3 linked regions of the Homo sapiens genome follow. The protein of the gene in region 1 interacts with the protein of each later gene in a pairwise test. Each region holds a gene or a part of one and is shown in the gene's direction. Other genes may lie near its edges.

The links. The genes of interacting proteins can lie anywhere in the genome.
Region 2: the proteins of BNIP3L (region 1) and LDLRAD1 interact in binary tests that used the Homo sapiens proteins (3 or more experiments, as listed by UniProt).
Region 3: the proteins of BNIP3L (region 1) and SMCO4 interact in binary tests that used the Homo sapiens proteins (3 or more experiments, as listed by UniProt).

What each region holds. Positions count from the first base shown.
Region 1 is NC_000008.11:26,406,958-26,413,695, forward strand, and holds the end of BNIP3L (BCL2/adenovirus E1B 19 kDa protein-interacting protein 3-like), read left to right. Parts: intron 1-1,042; coding exon 1,043-1,146; intron 1,147-1,269; coding exon 1,270-1,419; intron 1,420-3,406; coding exon 3,407-3,455; 3' UTR 3,456-6,170; downstream 6,171-6,738.
Region 2 is NC_000001.11:54,008,187-54,015,186, reverse strand, and holds part of LDLRAD1 (low-density lipoprotein receptor class A domain-containing protein 1), read left to right. Parts: intron 1-822; coding exon 823-951; intron 952-2,906; coding exon 2,907-3,044; intron 3,045-4,776; coding exon 4,777-4,905; intron 4,906-6,056; coding exon 6,057-6,205; 3' UTR 6,206-7,000.
Region 3 is NC_000011.10:93,533,392-93,540,391, reverse strand, and holds part of SMCO4 (single-pass membrane and coiled-coil domain-containing protein 4), read left to right. Parts: intron 1-7,000.

The sequences.
Region 1 (6,738 bases):
TTATTTCCTTTTATTTTTTTAATTATGAAATTTTTTTTTTTCTTTTTTTTGTTGAGATGGAATCTCACTCTATCACCCAGGCTGGAGTGTAGTGGCTGGATCTCGGCTCCACCTCCCAGGCTCAAGCAACCTCCACCTCCCAGGCTCAAGCGATTCTTCTGCCTCAGCCTCTCAAGTAGCTGGGATTACAGGTGCCCGCCACCATGCCCGGCTAATTTTTTTTTGTTTTGTTTTGTTTTGTTTTTTGAGGCGGAGTCTCGCTCTTTCCCCCAGGCAGGAGTGTAGTGGCGCGATCTCTGCTCACTGCAAGCTCCGCCTCCTGGGTTCACGCCATTCTCCTGCCTCAGCCTCCCGAGTAGCTGGGACTACAGGTGCCCGCCATCACGCCCAGCTAATTTTTTTGTATTTTTAGTAGACACAGGGTTTCACTGTGTTAGCCAGGATGGTCTCGATCTCCTGACCTTGTGATCCGCTCACCTCGGCCTCCCAAAGTGCTGGGATTACAGGCGTGAGCCACCGCACCCAGCGTGTAAGTTTTGTGTTTTTTTTTAGTAAAGACGGGGTTTTACCATGTTGGCCAGGCTGGTCTCCAGCTTCTGACCTCAAGTGATCCGCCTGCCTCAGCCTCCCAAAGTGCTGGGATTATAGGCATGAGCCACTGCACCCGGCCTAATTACGAAAATTTTAAGTGCATACAAGAGAGAATAATATAATGGACCTCCATGTAAGTATTGCCCAGATTTAACTCTTATCGAGGTTTTTCATACTTCCCTTAGCATTACATCCCAAAGTACAGTCTTATGCAGTTCCTGTGCTGTGCTTAGATATCCCAACAGTGAAGCTCACTCAGGTTGTTCTGAAGATATTACATACTCTGATCTTACATTATTTTTCAGCATTTTTTAGAAAAGCAACATGTTTGTTATCTAAAATTTCTGAGACACAACCTTATGAGTTTGGTATCTTTTCTGTCTAGATTTTTCTTTGTATTAGGAGGAATTGGTCTTCCTTTTTTTCTTAAAGTTTGAATTCTTCTTTACAGTCAGAAGAAGAAGTTGTAGAAGGAGAGAAGGAAGTCGAGGCTTTGAAGAAAAGTGCGGACTGGGTATCAGACTGGTCCAGTAGACCCGAAAACATTCCACCCAAGTGAGTTCTCACATGTTTCTTGTCAGTGGACACAGTTGATCTGCGCACGCTTACAGGCAATGGGCCTGGTAATCCCCACGATATTTTCAGCAAATGACATCTGCCTCTGAATTTCTTTCTCAGGGAGTTCCACTTCAGACACCCTAAACGTTCTGTGTCTTTAAGCATGAGGAAAAGTGGAGCCATGAAGAAAGGGGGTATTTTCTCCGCAGAATTTCTGAAGGTGTTCATTCCATCTCTCTTCCTTTCTCATGTTTTGGCTTTGGGGCTAGGGTAAGTACCGGTCAACTCCTGAAGTTTTTTCCATTCATTTTATCCTCTTATTTTCAGATTGAAGAAATGTATGTGAAAGCAGTTTTTATTGCTTTACTTTCAATGTTTTAGTGCAAATAAGGTGAACTTAAAAAAGTGGGTGCACAATTGTTCTACAAATAAGCATTTTTAATAATAGTAGAGTGTGTTTTCTTATTTGAAAATAAGATGTTTGGCCTGGTGTGGTGGCTCATGCCAGTAATCCCAGCACTTTGGGAGGCCAAGATGGGTGGATGACCTGAGGCCAGGAGTTCAAGACCAGCCTGGCCAACATGGTGAAACCCGGTCTCTACTAAAAATACAAAAATTAGCTGGCCATGGTGGTACATGCCTGTGGTCCCAGCTACTTGGGAGGCTGAGGCAGGAGAATCGCTTGAACATGGGAGGCGGAAATTGCAGTGAGCCGAGATCATGCCACTGCACTCCAGCCTGGGGGATAGAGTGAGACTCCATCTCGGAAAAAAAAAAAAAAAAAAGAAGATGTTCATAATAATCCCCTAAATGATCAAATGTAAGCGGACTCCTCTGTGATTGATTTTTCTTTTTGGGTTTTGTTGTGTAATATTTAATCTTGAGTAATTTATGAACTAAACTAATCTTTAGCATGTACATTTTGTGGTCAGTGCAAATACCTTTTTTTCATATGGGAAAATACATGATTACATTGAATAGTTTTTTTTAATGAAACTGGTAGGTTGATTGGTGCTAATTTTTTCCTTTTTTAACTTTGTAGTATTTTCATTTATTTTGCTAAAATCAACCTCATATTTACGTGTAATTCATTAGTTTCTTAGCCACATCTTTTAAATAAATTGCTTTTTTTCCTTGATTTAAACAATTGAGGAATTACACTTCTGAAAGATTTTAGGAGTTAAACAGTAGCTGTTAATTTTTTTCAAGACGTATGTTGTGCTCTAAGCATGCCCAGTGGGTCATTTTCAGTATAAGATATGCAGAAGATGGGGTCATCCTTTTTCTTCCCTTTAAGGAGCTCAGCATATTGGAGAGAGATTCTTAGTCACGACCTCAGAAACTTGCATACAGCTTTCCACACACCCGTCTTGTCTCTCTTGGGTGCTTGATCTGCTTTTGTGAGGGCAAGGACAGTAATCAACAAACAGCAACCTAGAAGGGGTTTGTGCAGAAGGGGACTGTGTGACTGTTGCGTGGGGGTTGATGTGGGGCAGGTGTAGGAGTTTAATACATTGCTGCCTATACAGCAGTTCATTGCCCTTAAGCGATTGGTGTCTATACCTTGCCGTCTCTCTTTCAGTCATCTTCAGATTGTTTGTCTTGGCTGTAAGTATAACTATTGCTATAGATGAATGTAAAAAGAGTGTTTAAAAAGTTCGTTGCTTTAATTGCACTGGAGGTGAAGCTAGTTACATACTTTCCTTAACTTCCCTTCTGCTTTTGCTGTTGAAGAGGCCAAATACTTTCTTGGCATGAAAAAGTATTATAAGGCCCCTAATCCTTAGGAGTTATTAGTAAGAGCTGTCTTTAAAGCACTGGCAGCTTTTAAGGTTTTTTTTTTCTTTTGTCCTACATAGAGCACCAGAATAATTTCACATATTACTATATTTTTGTGTCTGAAATGTCAGTAGAACCTTCTGTCCACCAAAGAGGAACATCTTGAAGGAGTTGGGCTGCTTTATTTACTCTGTGGAGGGATCTGTTCTCTCTGGCTTTACTTTGTCTAATCACTACCCCTTTGCTGTCGAGCCCCGATATTTAATGAGTAAACAAACTCATATAAAACCAGTTTGGCCGGGCTGGTGACTGGTTTTAAGAAAGTCAGTGATGATTTCACGGTGTTTGGGGAGCGGTACCCACAAACCTTTAGAGCCTTTTACAAAGACTGAAGAGTTTTAAGTAGAGTTCAACCTGTGGACAAGCTGGTATAGAACTGTTGAAACAGGTGAAACATGATGCTTCTGCTTCCTTTCAGCATCTATATTGGAAAGCGACTGAGCACACCCTCTGCCAGCACCTACTGAGGGAAAGGAAAAGCCCCTGGAAATGCGTGTGACCTGTGAAGTGGTGTATTGTCACAGTAGCTTATTTGAACTTGAGACCATTGTAAGCATGACCCAACCTACCACCCTGTTTTTACATATCCAATTCCAGTAACTCTCAAATTCAATATTTTATTCAAACTCTGTTGAGGCATTTTACTAACCTTATACCCTTTTTGGCCTGAAGACATTTTAGAATTTCCTAACAGAGTTTACTGTTGTTTAGAAATTTGCAAGGGCTTCTTTTCCGCAAATGCCACCAGCAGATTATAATTTTGTCAGCAATGCTATTATCTCTAATTAGTGCCACCAGACTAGACCTGTATCATTCATGGTATAAATTTTACTCTTGCAACATAACTACCATCTCTCTCTTAAAACGAGATCAGGTTAGCAAATGATGTAAAAGAAGCTTTATTGTCTAGTTGTTTTTTTTCCCCCAAGACAAAGGCAAGTTTCCCTAAGTTTGAGTTGATAGTTATTAAAAAGAAAACAAAACAAAAAAAAAAGGCAAGGCACAACAAAAAAATATCCTGGGCAATAAAAAAAATATTTTAAACCAGCTTTGGAGCCACTTTTTTGTCTAAGCCTCCTAATAGCGTCTTTTAATTTATAGGAGGCAAACTGTATAAATGATAGGTATGAAATAGAATAAGAAGTAAAATACATCAGCAGATTTTCATACTAGTATGTTGTAATGCTGTCTTTTCTATGGTGTAGAATCTTTCTTTCTGATAAGGAACGTCTCAGGCTTAGAAATATATGAAATTGCTTTTTGAGATTTTTGCGTGTGTGTTTGATATTTTTTACGATAATTAGCTGCATGTGAATTTTTCATGACCTTCTTTACATTTTTTATTTTTTATTTCTTTATTTTTTTTTCTCTAAGAAGAGGCTTTGGAATGAGTTCCAATTTGTGATGTTAATACAGGCTTCTTGTTTTAGGAAGCATCACCTATACTCTGAAGCCTTTAAACTCTGAAGAGAATTGTTTCAGAGTTATTCCAAGCACTTGTGCAACTTGGAAAAACAGACTTGGGTTGTGGGAACAGTTGACAGCGTTCTGAAAAGATGCCATTTGTTTCCTTCTGATCTCTCACTGAATAATGTTTACTGTACAGTCTTCCCAAGGTGATTCCTGCGACTGCAGGCACTGGTCATTTTCTCATGTAGCTGTCTTTTCAGTTATGGTAAACTCTTAAAGTTCAGAACACTCAACAGATTCCTTCAGTGATATACTTGTTCGTTCATTTCTAAAATGTGAAGCTTTAGGACCAAATTGTTAGAAAGCATCAGGATGACCAGTTATCTCGAGTAGATTTTCTTGGATTTCAGAACATCTAGCATGACTCTGAAGGATACCACATGTTTTATATATAAATAATTACTGTTTATGATATAGACATTGATATTGACTATTTAGAGAACCGTTGTTAATTTTAAAACTAGCAATCTATAAAGTGCACCAGGTCAACTTGAATAAAAACACTATGACAGACAGGTTTGCCAGTTTGCAGAAACTAACTCTTTTCTCACATCAACATTTGTAAAATTGATGTGTTATAGTGGAAAATAACATATAGATTAAACAAAATTTTTATCTTTTTTCAAGAATATAGCTGGCTATCTTTAAGAAAGATGATATATCCTAGTTTTGAAAGTAATTTTCTTTTTTCTTTCTAGCATTTGATGTCTAAATAATTTTGGACATCTTTTTCCTAGACCATGTTTCTGTCTTACTCTTAAACCTGGTAACACTTGATTTGCCTTCTATAACCTATTTATTTCAAGTGTTCATATTTGAATTTCTTTGGGAAGAAAGTAAATCTGATGGCTCACTGATTTTTGAAAAGCCTGAATAAAATTGGAAAGACTGGAAAGTTAGGAGAACTGACTAGCTAAACTGCTACAGTATGCAATTTCTATTACAATTGGTATTACAGGGGGGAAAAGTAAAATTACACTTTACCTGAAAGTGACTTCTTACAGCTAGTGCATTGTGCTCTTTCCAAGTTCAGCAGCAGTTCTATCAGTGGTGCCACTGAAACTGGGTATATTTATGATTTCTTTCAGCGTTAAAAAGAAACATAGTGTTGCCCTTTTTCTTAAAGCATCAGTGAAATTATGGAAAATTACTTAAAACGTGAATACATCATCACAGTAGAATTTATTATGAGAGCATGTAGTATGTATCTGTAGCCCTAACACATGGGATGAACGTTTTACTGCTACACCCAGATTTGTGTTGAACGAAAACATTGTGGTTTGGAAAGGAGAATTCAACAATTAATAGTTGAAATTGTGAGGTTAATGTTTAAAAAGCTTTACACCTGTTTACAATTTGGGGACAAAAAGGCAGGCTTCATTTTTCATATGTTTGATGAAAACTGGCTCAAGATGTTTGTAAATAGAATCAAGAGCAAAACTGCACAAACTTGCACATTGGAAAGTGCAACAAGTTCCCGTGATTGCAGTAAAAATATTTACTATTCTAAAAAAATGAGAATTGAAGACTTAGCCAGTCAGATAAGTTTTTTCATGAACCCGTTGTGGAAATTATTGGAATTAACTGAGCCAAAGTGATTATGCATTCTTCATCTATTTTAGTTAGCACTTTGTATCGTTATATACAGTTTACAATACATGTATAACTTGTAGCTATAAACATTTTGTGCCATTAAAGCTCTCACAAAACTTTTCCTGTCAGTATATCATTTTTCTGTCGCACCTGTTGCCTGGGAGTTTCAGGCGATGAGGCCTCCTCGCCTACACACAGCCTTCCAGTCATCTGGCTTCCCCAGCAGTGGAGTTCCTAACAGTGCTCAGGGTGTGAACGGTGTTCTGTGGGGACAGTCACCGCAGTGTGAGCATTCGTGAGTGCCTCGGGACTGTGGCATTCAGAGCATTTGCCTCCAGGTAGTGGCAGGAGGGCGCTCACGGGAGGAGTGCTCAGGAAGTACAGGAGAGAAGAAGAGTGTGCCCTGATGGAAATGACAGTGGGACACCAGTGAAAGTGGATCCAGAAGGAACTGGAAGTTCCACGTGCCTGGAAAACAGGATGGATACAGAGGAAACTGAAAAATGTAGGTTAGTACTGAACCTAATTGAAATGTGTGTGCCCTCCCAGGGGTCACACTTCATCATATAGTTAGCTGGGTTTACTTCTTTTAAACCAGGAGGTGATTTAAGATGTAAATTTTAGACAGTCAAGCCATCTGGTGAGAGAGTACCAGAGGAGATCAATCAGTTCTCTAGGCGAGGAGCT
Region 2 (7,000 bases), on another chromosome or scaffold:
GGTGCAGTGAACTAGATTGCACCATTGCACTGCAGCCTGGGCAACAGAGCCAGACCCTATCTCTAAAATATAAAAAATAATAATTAAAAAAAGCAATAATAATAGCTCATACTCAACACTTACTCTGTGCACATTAACTCAACAAATTCTAATCCTCTCAACAAAGTCTAAGGTAGCTATTATGGTACCCATTTTCCACATGAGGAAACTGAGGCACAGGGAAGTGAAGTGGCTTACTCAGTGTGGCCCAGGTAGGATGCGGTAGAGCTGGGATTCCAACCTGCATCCCAGCAGACTCCAGAATGGACAGTCAATTGGGATCGTGGAAAGGGCACGGGTTTTGGCATCAAACAGGTGTGGATTCACACGCCAGCTCCACCCAGGGTGACATGAATCTTTTCTTCCTGAGCCCTAGTTTCCTCATTGATAAAATAAAAGGTTGTTTTGAAAAATAAAGCACGCTTATGAAGGGCCTAATGGAGCTTCTGCCCCAAGGTGGGGGCTGGACATGCAGGCGTCCATCTCTCCCTGCGTCCTGAGGAAGTCTCCTGATGGCGGGTGGGAGGGGAGGGCTGTCCGCCTCTGCCATTCAGCCAGCTGTGGGCCCCTGGCCAGGGTGGCACCTAGTGGGGTGGGCCCACAGGCAGAACAAAGAGCATCAAGGAGGGCTTGGGAGCTGCTCCTCCAGGGAAGCCATCCCTGCTCTGCTCACCCTCGTGGGGGAGAGGCTGCTTGCAGCGGGCAGGGCGGAGAGGGAGCTCCCTGTTCCTAGCGCTGGCCCCCTATCACCACCACCCCCGGGCTTGTTTCCCCCCCACACAGCAGGCGGCGGCCACCTCTGCTGCTCACGTCGCGGGGCCTGCCTCTCTGCCTCTCTGCTGCTCCTCCTGGCAACTGTGGCGGCCCTCATCGCCTTGGTCACCATTCTTGGACTCCCATCATGCACCCCAGGTCAGGGCGGCCAAGAGAGGGTGGGTCAGACCCGGCGGGGAGGGCATGGGAGGGCACAGAGAGATGAGGGAGCCCCGACCTGCCTGGCTTCTCCACCAGGTGACTTTGGACTAATTCCTTAAGGTGCATGCACAGACACACACAGACACCTGCACACACACTGACTATACCTGTTTCTGAGCCTCCATTTGCACATCTGTGACATGATTATTGAGAGGACCCAGCTCTGATGTCACCTCCTCCAGGATGCCTTCCTAGACCCCCAGGATGGGTTACGAGCCTCTTCTCAGCCCCCCAGTCCCTACACTTCCTCTTCCCCTGGCCTGGCCACCCCGGGGTGGTGCTATCCAACTGTGTGCCCATCTCCACCACAGGGGACCGGGTGACATCCCATACATGCCTGCAGCCCCAGCTTCAGGGGTGAACAACCCCAACACAGTGCCTGCCTTCAAGGAGCTAATAACTGTTCCGAGAGCCGTCTAGACGTGAATACACATTACAGCGGGGTCCCTGGGAGCCCTGAGAGTCTAGCCCCATTGAGGAGTCAGGGTAGGAACAATGGGTATTAGTAGTGGGGGGATGCCAGGAAAAGCATCCCAGGCACAGGGAACAGCATGTGTGGAGCCCTGAGGGGTGGGAGGAAGCAGGAAGAGAAGAAGAGACTGCAAGAGGCCAGTGCACAGGAAGGGCTGGAGTGACAAGTGGGGCCCAGTGCCAAGGGCCTCACAGGCTGCACCGAGAAGGGAGGTCATAGTCCAGGAGCCACAGAAAGGGGATTAAGTTGGGGGCAAGTTGGGGGCAGGCTGATGTTTCTGAAGGATGGCTCTGCAGCCAGGCAGGGTGGGTATAGAGGGCTGAGGTGGGGGCGGGGGCTGAGATTCGCAGCGCTCCCCCTGCCCTGCAGGAACACAGACCCTGAGGTGGATGAATACATGAGCAGCTGCAGTCAAGAGCCTGTGTGCACATCTGTGTGTTTAGCGTGTCTATGAGTGTACGCAGCTGTGTATGCATGTTCATGTCTGTGTGTCAGTGCGTGTGTGCACATCTGTTGTCTGTGTATCTGTGAGTGTGCACATAGGTGCAGCAGTGTGTGTGTGAGCATGTGTTCATGTGTGTGTGCATCTGTGTGTGTCTGTGTCAACATGAGTGTCTCTGAGAGTTGCTCCCCCCCGCCGCCTCCCCCACACACACTAGCTGAGGCAGCCCAGGGACTGAGAGGTGGTTCACGCATGCACAAACACAAATGCACAAACTGGCTCCCATCCCCAATTATGCACACGTATACACATGTGGGGCCAAGGGGTTCCTCCTACCTTGTCCGTAGGTTTCTGCCTTTTAATTCTTTGGGGCAGCCCTAGGAGTGGGTATTCCTTTTCTCCTCCCATATGGGGGGCTAATGATGACGTGTCGCAGGGGTGTTTGGGGAACTATAGAATAAAGATATGAAAGTGCTTTGCAGTTGTGCCCAGATAGAAGGAATTATGACATATGGCCCTCCAGCCAGCCCAAATATATTGCTTCTGACACTCTAACCTGGTACCAGGAGCTCCACCATTAAAACCACTTCACTGAATTGAACATTGTCCTCAGAAGCTTCCCATGACACTGTAAATAAGTTTTCAATACAAGAGAGAACCATTACTAGTTCTGCACATTTTCTGTTCTATGTTTCTTCACAGAGATGCTTTCATTTAATCCCCACAACAGTCCCACGGGGTGTGTGCTATGATTCCCATGTTGCAAACAACCTGAGACTCAGGGTGGTCAGGTCATCTGCCCAAGATCAGGCAGCCGGCAGCGGGTACAGCTGGGGCTTGAACCCCATTGATGGCGCTGGGTCCATCCTCCCCACTGCCCCAGCCCCTCAGGCCAGCTCTAGGCGGAGTTCAGGTGAGGAAGGTTTGTCCTTGTGAGCACCACCCTTGACCCTCCAGGGCCTTTCCCTGCCCATTCAGGAGCCCAAGCTTGTATAACACTGACAAACAGGACAGGCTTCTTGTGCCATGACCAGAGGAGCTGCATTCCAGCCAGTGGGGTCTGTGATGGCGTTCGCACCTGTACCCACGGCGAGGACGAGGATGAGAGCTTGTGCCGTGAGTACCCGCTCGGTGCTGCCCCTCCCAGGGGTTCCCCCACACTCCGATGCTCTTGGCATCCATACTGAACACATCAGGCACCTTCAAGTCCCCATGGCTTTGATGCTCCAGTGCCTTCATCCAGGAACACCTGCCCCGACCTGGTCCCAGTCAGGGACACACATACATGCCCCCACTAAGGAATGCCTTCACCCTGTGCGTCTCCACTCCCAGAGAACCCGTATTCATCCCTCAAGGCAGAGTTCAAATGTTACCTCCTCCAGGAAGCCTTCCCTGACTCCCACACTAGGTTAAAGTGTCTCCTTTGGGCTTCCACAGTCCCTGTGATTCCCTGTGTCCCAGCCCTTGTCACACTGGTTGTCGCTCTTGATTGGCACATCTGCCACCCCCATCAGACTGTGAACTCCTCTGAGGCAGGCCCAGTCCGCTTGATATCGGGGCCCCAGTGCCTAGCACAGAGGGGTATTCAGAACGGCTTGCTGAATGAATGAGCGAATGAATGAATGGGAAGACCTGGCCCCAGACCTTAGACACACCTGAAGGTTCTCAGGAGAGAGGAGCCTGACCCCACAGGAGAGAGAGAGCCTGGAGAGGTGCAGTGGGTGGGGTGGGGGAGCTCATGGAGGGAGAGTCATTGCATCACAGACCCTCAGGACAAGAAGCAATCTCAAAAGCATCTAGTCCTTGCCCCAGCTCATCCCCAATCCCCTCTCTAGCAAGCCCAACCGAGGCCACCCAGCCTCTGCTTGCATCCCAGGGGATGCAAGGATTGGAAGGTTTTTCCATGGGAAGGTTTTCCTTGTCCCAGGCTTAGAGCTGCCTCCCAGAGTGGTTCCTCCCTGATTGGTTCCAACTCTGTCCTTCTGTCAACCCTGCCCCGATAGACCACACTTTAATTTCTGCCATGATGGTGGTGCTGCATGGATTTGAAGATTGCTCCCTTGCCCTCCATGAGGTTTCTCTTCTCTACGCCACATCCCCTTCTCCAGGTCACAGTCAGCCCCCTTGTGACCCAGTTCCTGGCCCTCCCCACTCCATCAATGCTCCACAGAATGAATATCAACTTCCCATGTCCCCGTCCCTGGACAGGCCTCAGAAACATCCTCAGCCCTTCTAGCTGGGTCTGGGCAGTCTAACGAACAGAATCTTGCTCCCTCCCTGCCCAAGGTTTTCTACCTCTAGTGATGTGGCCTGAGTTTGTGTGAATTTTTGATAGCCCTATCACACTGCTGCCTAACAGAACACACTTTCAAGAAAGGTGCTCTGACTCTGCCTTACAAGGTGTGTGAACCCTAGATCTTCCCCTGAGATCCGGGGCCCAACTGTAAGACTCCACATTTATTCCTGTGATGTTCCAGTTGGAAGAGGCTTCCTGGAGGTGATGGAACTTGAACCTGAACTTGAAAGAATGGTTTTGGATAGGTGTCAAGGAGGCTCTTTGTGGAGGGGGGCATAGTGTCAGCAGTGGTGTGGGGCAGGAACACACCAGAGCTGGGGAGGAACTGAGGAAGGGAGGGGCAGATCTCTGGGCCTCTGTCCAGCAACGGAGCTCTCCTCTCCCTCTGACTCCACCACCTCCCCAGGAAACCTTCTGCTTGCACCCTTCTGGGCTGGATGGGCACTGATCCTGAGTTTGGCCACTGCCAGGGTGGTCAATCCTCCTCCCGATAACCCTCAGACAGCTGTGGCCAGATGTGGACTTCTTCCTGCCTCCTCTGTACCTCTACAGGAGATGTGCCCCAGAGCCTCCCCCACTTCCTTGTGGCCCACTGTGGAGACCCGGCCTCCTGGATCTACTCAGACCAAAAATGTGATGGCACTAACAACTGCGGGGACTGTTCAGATGAACTGAGCCCAGGTAGGGGTCTGGGCACAGGCTGGGCTGGGGCTGGTGTCCAGGCAGCAGCCAGAGGGCAAAGGGTGAGCAGGGAATCTCTAGGGCTCCCCCTTGCATGCTTCCCTGCATCCTAGGAAGGAGTTTTCTACCCCTGCTTGAATACATCCTGTGATGGGGTACTCACTACCACTCCAAGTGACTTTTTCTGGAGGCTCATTCTTCTGCAGTGGGGAAGTCACCTTCAAAGGCACAGATGAGAAAACTGGGTCCCAGAAGGTGGTCATGCAAGGAGTACATACATGGCCCAGCTGGGATTTGAACCTGGGGTTCCCTTATCTCTGCACCTCCCAGTGACCCTGTGAGGAAAGCAGGGCAGGAATCACTGGCCCCAATTTGTATGTAAGTAAATGGAGGCTTTGAGAGGAGAAACTTAGTACAATGTGTGACAGGAAGGGAGCTCAGGTGTGAACCCAGGCCTCCTGATCCAAGTCCCGAGTCCTGTAGCTGCCCTAGAGTTTCCTCTCAATCTCTTCCCCAGTGGTCAATCAACAAACATGTTCTGAGCATTGGTGGGGTGCTCAGAACGCACCTGGTATCAGATTCAGGTGGGGGACATCAGGAATCAGGCATGTGTCCTACCCCCAGGACTCACATCATGCTGATGCCGAAAGGAGGTGCTGGGGACCTGGAGGAATCAAGGGAGATTTCTCAGAAGAGGTAGCATTCAAGAAGACCAAGAATAGACGGGTTTCAGTAGGTAGAGGCTGGGTGTGTGGGGAGGAATGCCGGAGGCCTGAGCAGAGGAGAGAAGGCTAGGAGCACCCTCAGGCAGTCATGGCAGGTGAGCATAGCTGGACTCAGGGTAAGGAAGGGCACCCATTCATATTGCAGTCTTTACCGTGTGCCTGGGACTTTGCCTGACATCCTTTGCTTGATAACAAGCTTGAGCACACTAGGAAACAGTTTCAGACAGGGTGAGGGAGGTCACATAGCCTGTGAGCTGTGGAGTCTAGATTCTCTCTGCCGCAGGAAAACTAGGAACACACTCAACTCACGTCAGATGGGTTGGGGCCATGGGGAGCTACGGCAGGTTTCAGAACTAGGGAGTGCCCTGGTGCACAGAGCGTTCCAGGACACAGCAACTGCTCTCCTGCTGGCTCTTGTCTCTGCAGTAACTGTGTGCCCACCCTGCGGCCCTGGGTGGTGGCGCTGTCCTTCAACCTTCTTCAAGTACTGCGACTGTATACCGAGGCATCTCTGCCGCGACCATGTACAGCACTGCTCCGACTGGTCCGATGAGTATGCCTGTCCCGGACCCTGAGTGGGCCACTCAGGCCAGCATGGAAGGCTGGCTGGAATGGCACTGATAACCCTTCACATGAAAATCAAATCCTAGCGCACAAGGGCAGGAAGCAGCCTTTGAAATGGGATCTACACATCATTTCTGAATAGGAATTTTCTCTCCTCCTTTCAAGTTGTTCAGCCTCTGCTTGAATGCTTCCAATGACCAGGAGCTCATTACCATGTTAGGTGGCTTCTAACAAAGATGATGTGGTGGAACCCCGTCTCTACCAAAAATACAAAAATTAGCCAGGCATGGCGGTGCACACCTATAGTCCCAGCTACTAGGGAGGCTGAGGTGGGAGGACTGTGTGAACCCAGGAGGTCAAGGCTGCAGTGAGCTGTGACCACACCACTGCACTCCAGCCTGAGCAACACAGTGAGACCCTGTCTCAAAAAAAAAATGAAACAAAACACAAACACAAACAAAGACGAAGGGAATCTGCTTCCATGATTTCATGCCTGTCTCTGGGGCCACACAGAGGAAATCTGCTAACTGCTCCAAGGCATACTTGTGGATCCTAATCTCGTCATCCCTTAGAGTGATGACATGTCTGGGGCTTAAATGACAAGCCGAGTTTAGCCTTCATGGATGGCACATACGTGAAACATATGCCACTTCCTACCCCTTTGGTACCTAAGGCAGATATACTGGGCTTGGATGCAACTTTAGCATCTTCCCCAGTTTAGTTAACCCAGCAGGCTCTACTGATTTAACCAAGTGACACAGCACATGAAACAGGATATCTGGCATCCTACCAGTGGGAAGCCACCC
Region 3 (7,000 bases), on another chromosome or scaffold:
ATACTGAACCTGCTGCCTGACCTCTCTGAGCCTGGTTTCCACATGTGTAAAATCAGGATAATACTGTCTGTCTTATATTCAAGAAATGTACCCACTAATTGCAGTGGGTGCTGAGTAAAGATTGGCATCCACTCCTTTCCCTTGCACACAGGTACTTGGGTCAATGGGATTGAGTAAGTCTTTCAGCAGTTGTCCTCAGGGGGAAAAGGCTTAAAGTACTTTTTGTACTTATCAATGATTCTTCTAGCCTTTTTGCCTTCCCACCCTAAGCCCCAGCACGCGCAATGAATATTCCAGGGCCTGTGATTGTCTTGTCCAAGGGAATTGAAAAAATCGTAAGCCAGAAAGGACAGGTCTTTGATAGAAAGTTGAAAATGGATGTAGCTGGTTTCCCTTTGCCCATTTTGTGGCCTTCCTCCTTTTTTTTTTTTTTAAATTAATTTTGTTGGACAGGGAAAAGATACAGAATTCAGGGGGTTCTAGCTGGAAGGGGGCCCTGGAAGAGCCTATAGTATAGGGCAGCTAGAGAGAGGAGTGGGCTGGCTGACGGTCAAAGCTAGTTTGGTGTGGGGGAAATTTCTGTTAGATGCAGGATTTGGCTTAATATGGGACCAATTTCCATCTAGTCCTTTAAGGCCCTCTTTTGGGACTCTGAAGTTTTTGTGCTCCAGGCAGATTTTGACTGGTTGTGGTGGCATCACAAATGAGTTTCCATAGTAAATTGTATGCTGAAAGGAAATTAAATTCCAAGAGGGTGTTTGTTGTGACTGATGCCAGAATTTCCTCTGAGAATTTTATTAACATTCAGTCTGTGAAAGTACTTCTTAGTTCTCTGAAGATAATAATTAGGAAATAGTTTTTAAAAAGTAGAAGTGTCGTCTTTGTGAGCTTTTGAAATGTCATCTTCCTAAATCTTTGGAGCAAATGAGGCTCAAAACATCATAGAGACTTATATTTTAAAAGCATTTCTTCCTAAATGTACTGTTTTCCTTCTCTTCCTGTTCCTTCCGTCCTCCTACATTATTTTGATAATGAGTTAATTTTGGTTTCTTTCACATTGTGGTGGCCTAATTTTTAAATTTATGACCCTTCATTTTTAGATCTTGCATGTATTTTTTTTTTTTTACCCTTGAGTCAATTCTCATTGATTATGAAGAGCTGGTATAGCAAGATGGGAAAGAGAGAGGACCCTGGAGCTAGGTTGGTGAGATCTAGGCTCTTTAGAACTTGGATTCGGTCCTCACAGTAGCTCTGGGAGGCTGATCATGCTATTCCCAACACACAGATGTGGAAATGGGTGCAGAAACACATGTGTGTTCACATAGCCAGCAAGTGGTTTATCTAAGTGTCACTGCAATGATCTGTAGGACTCCAAAGCCCATGCTTCCAGCTGGAAAGGCAGGCAGGGGCCTTGCATGCTGTGCCAGGGTTGGGACTTAGTCCTGTAGGCAGAGAGGGTCAGGCCTGTATTCTAGAAAGGTAGCTCGGTGGCTGTCTGGAGTTTTGAAGTGAAGCAAGTAGAAATTAGGTGTAGAGAAACTAGTTCATTAAAGTAATGTCTTGAGAGATGAGGGCCTGAACAGAAGACATTAAGACAGTGGCAGTGGTTGCGGAGAAGAGGGGGCTTGTTGGAATCCATAGAGCTTAGTGCCTTTGGATACTAGAATTGCATCATCCCTTCCCATTTCAGGTCTGATGCCCCAGGGATGGGTGTTGGAGATGCTGACTATGTGCAGGCTAAAAGCAATCTCTGCAGAAACCAAAAGTGCCTCCTTTGGTCTCTGCTAACAGCTAGAGAAAGGTGGCTGAGCACAGTCCGAAAGGGCCTTCCCTTCCCTGTGCCACCCCAGCCTTATCATTCCTAACTTTCCAGGAGCATCGCAGAGAATGAAGTTGGATTCCTCAGACTGCATTTTGGGAAATGCTAGTCAAGGTTAGAAGTGTGGAAGGGAAGACGCCTTCCTGGGGTATTGTCTGCACACCCCTCTTCCCTGGTGGCACAGGGGACCCACCAGGGTTTGGTCCTCAGTTTTGGCTATTCCATAAGAGTTGATCTGCCCTAGATGGGGTTAACTTGTGGTCACCAAACTTGCAGGGGTTGACTGGGAAGCAGGAGTGGCAGTGAACATAATGGCCAGCCCCAAGAGGAGTCGAGGCCAGCCTCCTCTGACGGGTGCAGTCTCTGCGGGGCGCCAAGCCATGCTCAGGGAAGCGGGCATCAGAGCCCAAGGAGATGATTGGCTGGGGTCTGCATGTCCTGTCATCGGTAGGACGCACTGTTGCCATGTCAGGAATATACTGGTTTTGTGCCCTTTCCCCTAGTCAGTGCCAGACGTGGTCATAAACTTGCTTTTGGGCTTCCGTTTTTCCAAATTGTGCAACATCCCTGCCCTTCTGAGAGTTTGTGCTGGCTCTGGTCAGGCCGGAGGTCAGGTGGTCAGATTCTGGCTTTATTTGGGCTGTGTTCTCGCTGCGAGGAGGAAGCCAGGTTACCTCTGTTGGACCTGCCTGCTCCCAGCATCTCCAGCAACAAGCTGTCTCTGCCGGTGAGTCACTCCGTGCAAGAGTCTGCTCACCCACTTTCTGCTTGATGTTTACACTTTTCCCTCAAAGAGGGAACCTCTTCTTGTTCTGAGGGCACTTCTCGGCAGTCCCCTAGAGTGTCCAGTTGTTTCTTTTGTGGGGTAAGAACCCGTGCCAGACAGGTACATGTTTTAATGGGAGAAGAGCATTTCTGCCTGTGGATATGAGCTGTCATGCCTACCTCTTGAACATTATGTCCTGAGCAAAGCCCTTTTCTCGTTCTTTTTGCTTCGTGTTTAGGTGCGTGTTTGGGTGTGTTTGCTTTAATTATTACTGGGAAGCAAAAAAGATATTTATCAAAGGTTTAAATCTATAGCAGTGCCCCTGCAAGCAGAAAGAAGAAGTATATATTTAGCCAGGATATCATTGATTTATCACCCTTTTTTCCATTTTGTTCCTGTTTTGTTGGCAGGACCATCTGATTTGTATACTGGTTCAGTTTGGATTTCAGTAGTGAGTGTGAAAAGATTCCTGGGCTGTTTGCCGAAGTGGAGGGACTCAAATGCGTGGGCTTCAGGGCTGCCAGTCTTGGCTGTCCCTGCAATCCCAGGAGCCTGGCACATGGTGCCTTTGTCAGGAAGGTGGAGTTTGGCCAGGCCGTTTCTTTGGCTTTGCCTGGGAGCAGCTCTGCTGGTGACAGTGGAGGCCTCCCTCTGCCGTGGGAAAGGGAATTCTCTCTTGATTCCGGTTTTGGCTTATTTCTCATCCTATAGGGATGAGAGGGAGGAAGGCCCCAGAACTAGTGAGTTTTGGTGATGAGCAGGTTCAGGGTAGGACTGGTTTGCAGCTTCCACAGAGCTTTTACAGATGTTTTCCTTGCATCCCACATTTTCCTTCTTCCTTGTTAGTCCCAATTCAGTCTGTCATCAGTACTGCAGAAATTGGCTTGAACTTTGTCAGTCTTGGGAAGACCTGGAAGTGCAGCATAGAAACCTGTTCAAATTGGTGCAGCAATTTCACATCAGCATAAGTAGCTTGTTTTGGTGGTGGTGGTTTTTTAATCAGTTTAGGTGCTTTTTTTCTGAAATCATATAGGTAATATGTAAATGTATTCTCCTGCAGCCTGCCCTTGCATTTAAATAGTGCAGAAGGACACAGCAGACTTGTCACATTCCCCTTCACCCAGCACCCCTCCCCAGGTGCCAGCTCCTCCAGGTCCTCAGAGATAACTGGTGTTAGCAGTTGGATCCGTGTCCTGAAACTGTCAAGCCTGTATACACAAATACACTATGGTTTTCCTTCTTTTAGAAGCATGAATCTGATTGCATCATACTGCTTTTTTCACATAGTATATTTTCGAGAGCTTTTCATGCATGTAGCTCTTCTCTGTTCTTTTAATTTGTCTTTTATTTGCCTACAAAATATTTTCCAGTGTAGTTATGTCATAATTTATGAATTGGTCCCCTACTGGTAGACATATAAACTAACTCATTAGTTTTGCTATTATATCTTCATTCATACATATTAGTATGCACATGTTTCTCTAGGAGTAGAATTGGCATGTCAAATGTTAAATTCATTTAAAATGTTGCAGCAGTACCCATACTATGCTCTCAAGAGATGTGCTAGTTCCTGTTGTCAGTGGTAATGGGCTGCCATTCCCCTGGGTGAAAGAAATGGATCATTGTTCAGTAGGCATTTCATTTATTATTGGTGAGGTTGCAAACCTCATCATTTGGCTTCTTTTTTTTTTCTTGATAAACAGACATGTTTAATGATAGCTTGCTCTTCACAGAGATGTCTACGGAGACTTTTTATCTATAATCCAGGAGTATATAACCATGCAGCACAGACCAATTAGCCAAATGCAAAATAAACTAGATTCTTACCACAACTATCCTATAAACACTGCAACTATTCTTTCCAAAAAGACCCTAATCTTATGTGAAAACACCTACTGTGGGGGAACCAGAAACCTAGCTATGTGGCCAAAAGGAAAAAATAGCAATTCAGTGGTTAATTGGTGAAAGCAGGAAATGTATGTCCTTTACTGTGCTGCTGTTGCTGCTGCTGCTGCTGCTTTGGTCTTCTTAGTTTTGTTCTTTTTGTCTCTCTTCTTCAGCCCATCCATGTTAGCTCTCAGGAGGTTTGAATAAGCCATCTGAAACTTATTCACTTCCTCGGAGCTCACCACTGTGCTGATCTTCTTTTTCCCATCGGTAGCTCTTAACAGACACTTGTTGTCTGCAGGCTCAAAGCCCTCCACAGTACCTTTCTTTGGAATGGATTTGGTTCGACTGTCATACTTCTTCAAGGTGATATGATGCTGCCTGATGTCCAGCACTTCTGGAAAAGTCTGGTCAGCTCCGTCAGGAGCTGCTCGCTCTCCAACAACACCATCGCGGCGACTCTGGCTCGACTCCCTCTGCTTAAGCCCCTAGCAGTGAGAACTGGTTATTTGGCTTCTTGATTCTTATTGCTGAGATCGTAGATGTTAAGAGTGGTGGGTCCATAGCAACTATAGAAGATGAGGGAACCAAACCCTCAAGGACCATGGCTCAGCTCAGGGTGGTGTAAGCGTCATGCCACCAGTGGTGGCATTGTGGTACCTGGAAGCAAGAGCTCCTGATTTCACATTCTCTGTTTCTCCCGGATGCTAGTTATGGTAATAGGACATTTTAATTTTGGTGTAACTTGCCAGAGTATTTCTCCAAACCTTTCATCTGAGGAATCAAGGGTCCGTAAGTATTAAGATCAGTCTGTCCTGTGCTGCTGAGGCGTGGATTGGAGACTGGGGAGGGGCACTGGGAAGACACTTAAAGATTGCGTGCTGGAAAATCAGGCACTGTTGCTTCTGGAAAAGCCTCCAGGAATGTGGTAAAGCAGATGTTTTCTTCTAGTTGCATGTGATTATTCCCCCTCTCCTGGCTTGCTATGGGAATATTGTGGTGCTTTGACCCTTAGCAGGATGCTCTGGGGAGAAGCGATGACTTCTTAGAAGGTGTTTGAGGGGTGTGACACAATGGGCTGGCAGAGAAGGCGTCTGGTGGCTTCCATGAATGGGCTGATCTCGGGGCCCTCCCTGCAGGCTGGGCTGTCCAGTGGACACAGTGGGCTTCGGAAAGCCCTGGCTTACTGGACCACAGAGTCCTTTACCTATTGCTCAAAGGGGCAGAGAGCAGGAGTGGTGGAGGGGGAACCCTTGGGAGATGAAGGGACTGCAGAGTTGAGCCACACTGGACCCAGCTCCCATTCAGCACCTTATGGGTGTGTGCCTTGAGCAGCTATTTTATCTCCCTGGGCCTCAGCTTTTCCCTGTAAGTTAGGAATAATAATTAGTACCTGCCTCACAGGGTTGTTGTGAAGATTAAAAGAATAATGTTTATAAATCTCTCAGCATATTACCTAATTAGTACTTGGTAATTGTAAGTAACTCCACCTATTTGTGTTCCCTTTTCCATATATATATGTATCTCTCTCTCTCTCTCTCTCTATATATATATATATATATGTATGTGTATATATATGTGTATATATGTATATGTGTATATATGTGTATATATGTATATATATGTGTGTGTGTATATATGTATATATATATGTGTTTGTGTGTGTGTGTGTGTGTGTGTGTGTGTGTGTGTGTGTGTGTGTGTATATATATATTTTTTTTTTTTTTTTGAGACGGAGTCTCATTTTGTCGCCCAGGCTGGAGTGCTGTGCCGCGATCTTAGCTCATTTCAACCTCTGCCTCCCAGGTTCAAGCAATTCTCCTGCCTCAGCCTCCCTAGTAGCTGGAATTACAGGTGTGCGCCACCACGCCTGGCTAATTTTTGTATTTTTAGTAGAGATGGGGTTTCACTGTGTTTGTTGGCCAGGCTGGTCTTGAACCCTGGACTTAAAGTGATCTGCCCACCTTGGCCTCCACAAGTGTTGGGATTACAGGCGTGAGCTACCACACCTGGCTAATAACTGTTTTAAAATGAGTGACTACATATCATATTTGCATATTACATAAGTAGACTTAATCTGGTAACATTAAAGAGAAGAGGTCAGGAGATTAGTAGCTGTCGGGGCAGATGAGGGTGGGGGCTATGGGAATTAAAAGGGATGAAGGTGGGAGGCTTCGGTGGAGGCCTTAGGTGGGGCAGGAGAGTTGAGTTGGGATGTTCTCTTCCAATACCATTGCTCCTGCAGAATCCCCTCCTTTGTGCACATCAGAGCCCCACACGCAGAGGCCTTTTCTCTTTTTTTAGATAGACTGAGGGTTAGGGGATTGCTAGTGCAACCTCTACCCTTTATTTCGAGGTGGCTGAGTGGGGCCCTGAAAGCCAAAGTGTCTGCCTCAAGCTACACAGATGGCCAGGACAGAGCACAAGTAGGCCCAGCTCTCTGTGCTCTGGGGAGTTGAGATTTCTTTCCCTTCTTCCCTGCACTGCCATGTGTTGCTTATAGCCAGATGCAGGAAAGAGACATGGTG